Linked DNA regions of Homo sapiens. Changing the gene in region 1 together with any one later gene gives a genetic interaction. Each region holds a gene or a part of one and is shown on either strand. Other genes may lie near its edges.

Region 1 (3,655 bases):
TTTCATCTTTCCTTTCCTTCATGAACTAAATGAACTGGTATATGAGGCAGTTCTTCTTTAGAGAACTACTAAATGCAGATGGAATGACAAAATTAGGAAATCACCATTTTGTAACCCCTAATGAAATAATGACTCTAAGAAAGAATCATTAATGAACCCCCAAATCATCAGGGTAAATACCAATGAAGAACTTTATGACAGAGGAACAAGTCTGACACCTGAACCACTAAGCAATCTTAGCATTACTAAAAGTAGGACATCCAGAGATCACCTTCTAATGTGATCAAGCCTCTAGCTCTACTCGCCAGTTCACAAGAAATACAAGAAACACAGGCATATTAAGTGACACCACAAGAAAACAATCTGTTTCATCTAGATTATGGCTCATTTTAGTGTTAAATGACCTGCTTTCATCAATAAATCAAAAATGTAGAATAAGAGAAACATAAGAGATATATTAACCAAAATGCAGTGTGTGGGTCCTGATTTGAATAAACCAACAGTAAAAATAAGTATTAGAGCTAATCGGGGAAACTGGAATTACATAATTGGTTCCATCCTTAGACCTGGGCCAGAGAAGCTCTTGCTCTAACCCCACACTTTTGAGAGCTCTGCAAAAGTGCGTGTTCCCTCTGACCTGTGTTCCCATGCTCCTTTCTGGGTAACTAGGACCCCAGAACACCCTGCTCATTTCCAAGGTCTACATGGGCCTTCTACTGGGTCCATCTTCTAAAAAACAAATTGTGCTGGCTGGCCATGTGCATTCCCTTTCACTGAGGCTGAAGGTGTGGCCATGATGCGGGGTAGCTTTTGCAAGCCACGCAGTAAGAGTGTGGGTGTACAGGTTGGAAGATCCATATGGTACATGAGAGATAGAGCCAGGGCAGGAGGGAAGAAAGAAGAGAGGTAGCCCCCCCAGAGCCAGCTTTCCATGCACTGCAACATTCTGGCACAGAGCTCTAAATCCAAACCGTGCCTTTCTTGTCACTATGAAAGGGTATTTGTCAAGTTGGAGGATAAAGTTTGCTAGCTTGATTTATAACTCCTAAATACTTAGATATATGTTATGTGGATTCTCATTTGTACTCTTCCTCCAGGTACAAAAATATTAAGGGAAAGTCTACAGACGATCTTATTTAAAATACTGTTATTAAGAATGATAATGACATGGTGGTGTTTTTTTTAAGTCTTTAGAATTTAGATTTAGGAGTGAAATAACATGATGACTTGAATTTACTTTTAAATATTCTAGAAAAAAATGGAAGGATTAGACTGGCAAAATGTTGGTAATTTTTGAAGTCAAGCAAAAAGAGATTCTATTATACTATTATATACTTTTTGGATGCTTGAAAATTTCTACAACAAAAAAAAATTAAAAATAGAAATCAATCTTATACAGCATCCGATAAAGAGAAGCAGTGACAACCTTCCTGTAAACATGGAATAAAAGGTTAAGAGTTGCAAATAAGTTAATAATGCACAGCAAAACAGCACTCATATATGCACCATGCCTAGGAATCAAGCAGAAGAAAAGGACCCCGCCTAAACTAGAGGTTTCCACTGCTTCTCCAGAAGTGAACTGAGGAACAGTGACTTGAAATTGGGGCTGGGGCTGGGAGGTGAGAGGGCAGGTGGAAGAAGAGTGTGCTCTGGCAGGACAAAAAGTTCTCCTCTTCTCATCCACTGGAACTCAGAGTATAAGTGGGATTGCACTGCAGAGGTAAACACAGGATACAGAGTTTGCTTATGAAGCCTGCAAGATACTCATCCCCTACAGTTACCCCTATCTGCCCATATATTTATCAATGATAGGGTTGAAAGGACTGTTTTCTTTAAATCCTAAATTAACTTGTACAAAAAAAAGCTTGCTGTTTAATTTCCTGCATGTACATATATATATTTTATATATACATACACAAACACATATACACACATATAGACACACACATATACATATATATATATTCTCTTATTCCTCCATATATTCATGGAGAGAGAGAAAGAAGTGAGAAGAGGCTTCATTATACTGTGTATGTGTATGCATACACACACGCACATACACATACGTATATATAGAGAGAGAGAGTCTAAGAAAAAAATTACAATAAACTCTTAGAAAAATCTAAGATTACTTACTTATGGCAGGTGGGGACAAAATATAAAATTTAATTTCCCTCAAGGTCAAAATAATCACATTAAACATGTATCAGATGAGAAAGAGACCAATGTATTCTAACTTTTGAAAAGAAGTGATTGATCAATTCGCATTTACTGAGTGACCACTAAGAAAGGACTGTGTTACTACCAAGTAATAAGGTGTGCTTCCATTTATGGCTGGTGAAATTAGTCTCATTACACGATAGTTACGACTTATCTACTTCTCACTCAACACTTGACTCCCACCTACCCACTGCATATCACACACATAGAGGGAATACTTACCCATATTTATCTCTTGCTCTCCACCAATGAACATCATTCTTTTCTAAAATGAGATACTCTTGGCCTCTCTCTAATCTGAGATCATGTCCTTCTGCTGCTTGGAAATCATACATGGCTACAACGATTTCTTCACTATTATCTTCTTCTTCTAGTGGAATTGGTGGGGGAGGCCTTCGCTAGACAAGGAAGATAACATTTGAAAGTTTAGTCTTCTATATGAAACTGATCATGAATCAAAACACTAAATGAGTCATACATCACCACAGAATAAACTAGAAACTTCAAGTCTACTTACTATAATCCAACAAACTCTCATGAAGAAGAGTATTATAATTCCTGTTTCATAACTAAGGTAACAATGATTTAATTAACCCACTCAAAGTCACTCATATCAGATCAAGTCTTGAATGAGTCCAAAGTGCATGTTTCCTCCACTATACCCCACTCCTGAAAGGCATATCATTATATCAGTGAAGTCACTTCTTTGTCACACTGTGGTCTTAAGACTGAAATATTTATCTAAATCCCACTCCTCTTAATACAACTCTTTAAGTGAAAATAGAGGCAAAATGCCAGATGATAACAGGATCTCCAATGATAAAATCTCATACAATTAAATTGGTATTATTTGACACCACAAAAAATTGAAATAAGCTACAGCACATCTGCTTCTGAGACGATCCTAGGGAAAAATTGTGTCACATCAATGAATAAACCGCATACTCAGTAAGTCACAAACACTACCAAAACTTAAGACTTAAAGGCTTAAAATGTAAAGATTAACTATCAAAAGCTAAAGACCACCTACCTTCTTTGTTTCTGGTGCTGGAGGTAGTGCTTTTCTTATACCTGAAAATGCCAACAACAAAAACAGATTAAAATGCTATCTACCAATAATTGATAAAAATAAGATATGGGTAGTTTTAAGGAAAAGTGGAAGTTAACACATAGACAAGCAGCACACTCTGACCAACTCTGGTGTATGCTGCTTGTATCTCTATTCTAGAACAGAATTAAAAACTGCTATTATAGCTGGTTTGTATTTCTGCCTTTCTGAACGCACAATAAATGCCACAGGGATTGAAGCCAGGCCAGTTCTTTGTATTCCTACCACTGCATAAACTGGGCACTCAATAATGCTCATGGAATCAAACATTGAAATCATGACAACACTGAGAAATTAATCAGCTTTGGCTGTCCATTCCTCTACAGT
Region 2 (3,655 bases), on another chromosome or scaffold:
GGGTGGAGTGGTGTGATCACAGCTCACTGCTGCCCTGAATTCCTGGGCTGAAGGGATCCTCTTGCTTCAGCCTCCTGAGTAGCTGGGACTACAGGCAAGAGCCACCACTTATTTTTGAATTTTTTGTGGAAACAAGGTCTCCCTATGTTGCCCAGGCTGGTCTTGAACTCCTGGGCTCAGCGATCCTCCCACCTCAGGCCCCTGTGCTGGGATTATAGCCTCCTGTGCTGGGATTACAGGCCTAAGCCACTGCACCAGGCTTTTATTTTTTAATTTAAAAAAATTTATTTTTTTGAGACAGGGTCTCACTTTGTCCCTCAGACTGGATGCACTGGTGCAATCTTGTTTCACTGCAGCCTTGACCTCCCTCCTGGGTTCAAGTGATCCTCGTGCCTCAGCCCCCCAAGTAGCTGAGACTACTGCTGCACACCGCCACACCCACCTAATTTTTGTATTTTTAGTAGAGAACGGGTTTCTCCATGTTGGCCCAGCTGGTCTTGAACTCCTGGGCTCAAGCGATCCACCCACCTCAGCCTCCCAAAGTGCTAGGATTACAGGCATGAGCCACCATGCCTGGCCTAAAAATATTTTTTTCAGCTCTAGAAATGTTAGCTCTTTTGCTGTACATTTCCAGAGCTGCTTTAATAATGACAGTTATCACACGCATAATTTCATGTGATGATTGCATTCTTAATTTTTAAATTTAACAACTGCACTTACTTCATGAGGTCTTGTTCATTGATACATCTTTAGCACCTAGTGTGCTTCTGGTGTAGCACACGGTTGATATAAATTGAAATTGAATTAATGCTCACAGTAGTTTGGGGATGGAGCTGGTAGTTCTGCATTAATTTTGCAGGTGAAAAAAAAAGGCATGAGGAAGTTGAAACTTGCCAAAAAATACAGCCAGTACGTGCTAGAATTGGCCCTGGGTCTCAAATCTGGGCTTCTGACTCCAAAGCTTAGGCTCCTGCTCATACAGGTTTATTTTCACATTCTAAGCTTTTAACGAAATGTATGTCCAATGAGTCATTTCTGTTTAGAAAGCCTTTAGGAGTTGGAAGCTACTTCCTGGTGATGTAATGTTTGACTCTCTAAAGTCTTTGGAATGGGGAGTTCCAACTTTTGTTAAGCCCTCAATAATGTCATGAGTGAATGAATATTGGCAAGACTGGCTGGGCCTGTAATCTGCCTTGAGTGTGAGGGAAAATGGAAAAGCGCTTAACTTTATGGTGAATTCTAATTTATAGTAGTTGAGATTGAACGACAAAAATCTTAAAATTATGATGCTGATGTGTCATTGTGACCTTGGTAAACTGACAGCACAGCAGAGAGAAGGGCTCATTAAGGAGAGCACTTGGCTAACTGAACCCTCAGGATGCCAGAGACTTGAATTCTCATGTAAGCCCTTAAGCTTGCCTTGTCAATGCTGTAAAAATTGGAGACCTTTATGTTTTGCTAATGATGTGGTGACCTTAGTTATTAGGTGATAGCCTCTTGAAAAACATTCCAGGTGGTTGGGAGACTTTCAGCCACCACTCTTCTGCCTGGCGGCACACTGGTAATATTAGGATTAGTCTCTACCCATTGCCAGTTGTGCAGGTGGTGCTCCTTTCTCTGAAGTATTTCTACACACTTCTCTGTTTGGCAAGTTTAACTCCCATCGTCTCTGAGCTGTTAATTAAATGTCTGGGATGTATTGTGATAGTCCCTGCTTATAGACTTATGGTGCTGTGTGAGGATTGGGGCTGGGGGAGGTGGCATTTAAATACAGCTGAATCAATGTGATGGCAGTTACGTGTGGTAGTTTATTGACTAAGCACTTTCTCTCAAGAGAACAGTCATTGCTGATTGCCATAGGGGAGGCTGTAGGGATGTGGTGGGATTTTGAGCTGTCCCACTTAAGGCAGCAGAATAAGTTACTTAAAGAGGAAGGCTGTGTTTGTATATTAGTGTTAATTAAAATACCTTTAGGCTGGGTGTGGTGGCTCCAGCCTGTAATCCCAGCACTTTGGGAGGTCCAGGTGGGCGGATCACTTGAGGTCAGGAGTTCGAGACCAGCCTGGCCAACATGGCGAAAACCCATCTCTACTAAAAATACAAAAAAATTATCCAGGCGTGGTGGTGGACAGCTGTAATCCCAGCTACTTGGGAGGCTGAGGCAGGAGAATCGCTTGAACCTGGGAGGCAGAGGTTGCAGTGAGCCAAGATGGTGCCTCTGCACTGCACTCCAGCTGGGGCGACAGCACGAGACTCGGTCTCAAAAAAAAAAAAAAAAGAAAAAAAAGAAAAAAAGAAAATATCTTCAGGATCAAACTTAAGATTCTTGATGAGAGGCTCTACAGATGTTCACAGAAGAGACGTGAAGTTTTAAAATCTTGTTTCTCTTGAGTCTTGTAGCTAGGTGACAACTGTTTCTTGACTATTAATGCTAACACCGGGTACCTAAACAGAATGTGATGGCTCCTGACTCTATCTTTCTGAGAAATTCTAGTTTGTTTACTTTAAATTTCAGGGTACCAATGTGTATGTGGTGATAAAGGGTTATAGAAAACATTTTCTTTAATGCTAAGTATGTGATGTATATGCCTTGATTTTTTTTCTCTAGAAATTATTTTAACTTAATAGTGAAAGCTAAGATTACATTCATGTTGACTAAGCAACCTTTTTTCTCTTTCTCTTTAGAGCTGTAGGTAAAACTTGCCTACTGATCAGTTACACAACCAATGCATTTCCTGGAGAATATATCCCTACTGTGTAAGTATCTTAAATTGGGAATTAACCTGTTTGTGTTACGGGTTTCACATTTCTTTGACCATTTGTTTTGCTGTAAAGCCATCTTTAATCCTCATATGAACAGATACTAATTTTTTCTTAAACATTCACTGAAACCTAATTATAAGGTATATTAGGCTTTTAAAAAATAGGGCTGGGGGTGGTGATCTCAGCACTTTGGGAGACTGAGGCGGGTGGATCAACTGAGGGTCAGGAGTTCGAGACCAGCATGGTCAACGTGATGAAACCCCATCTCTACTAAAAATACAAAAAATTAGCCAGGTGTGGTGGCGGGTGCCTGTAATCCCACATACTTGGGAGGCTGAGGCAGGAGAATCACTCGAACCGTGGAGGCGGAGGTTGCAGTGAGCCAAGATCACGCCACTGCACTCCAGCCTGGGCAATGAGAGCGAAACTCCATCTCAAAAGAAAAAAAAAAAAGAAACTTAGGGTAATATAAACTTTTCACAACTTTGCTAGTTGATTTTTAGACATCCAGAAAGCAAACTTTAACTGTCTGTGAGGTACAGAGACTGGATGATGTTAAAGAAAACCATAGTTGGACACAAGAACTCTGACCAAAAGTCTGATCAGAAACAGTCCTTGTCAGTGCACGAGTTTCAGATACACTGGCTTTCTGGGAACTGGAAAGGGAAAGATTCCATTACGTTTTAATTGGCCTTTTCTGATAAGTCATCAGTTGGTTACATGTCCGCATTGAGGTGTAGGGCTTTGGAATTGAAACTTGGGTGTGTGTGTTGAAGGGGGAATGGGAGGGTGGAATTGGCTATTGAATTGCTTACTCCCTATAGGCAGCAGAATTGGGTGGAGACAGGAAAGTGCTGCTCTGGTGATGGGTTACCCGGGAGCGCACGTAGCT

Evidence for each region. A genetic interaction does not mean that the proteins touch.
Region 2: of TEC (region 1) and RAC1, changing one enhances a phenotype caused by changing the other (phenotypic enhancement), as found in Homo sapiens cells (one study listed by BioGRID).

What each region holds. Positions count from the first base shown.
Region 1 is NC_000004.12:48,165,336-48,168,990, forward strand, and holds part of TEC (tyrosine-protein kinase Tec), read right to left. Parts: intron 3,292-3,655; coding exon 3,251-3,291; intron 2,619-3,250; coding exon 2,443-2,618; intron 1-2,442.
Region 2 is NC_000007.14:6,384,527-6,388,181, forward strand, and holds part of RAC1 (ras-related C3 botulinum toxin substrate 1), read left to right. Parts: intron 1-2,685; coding exon 2,686-2,757; intron 2,758-3,655. UniProt on the Homo sapiens protein: Plasma membrane-associated small GTPase which cycles between active GTP-bound and inactive GDP-bound states.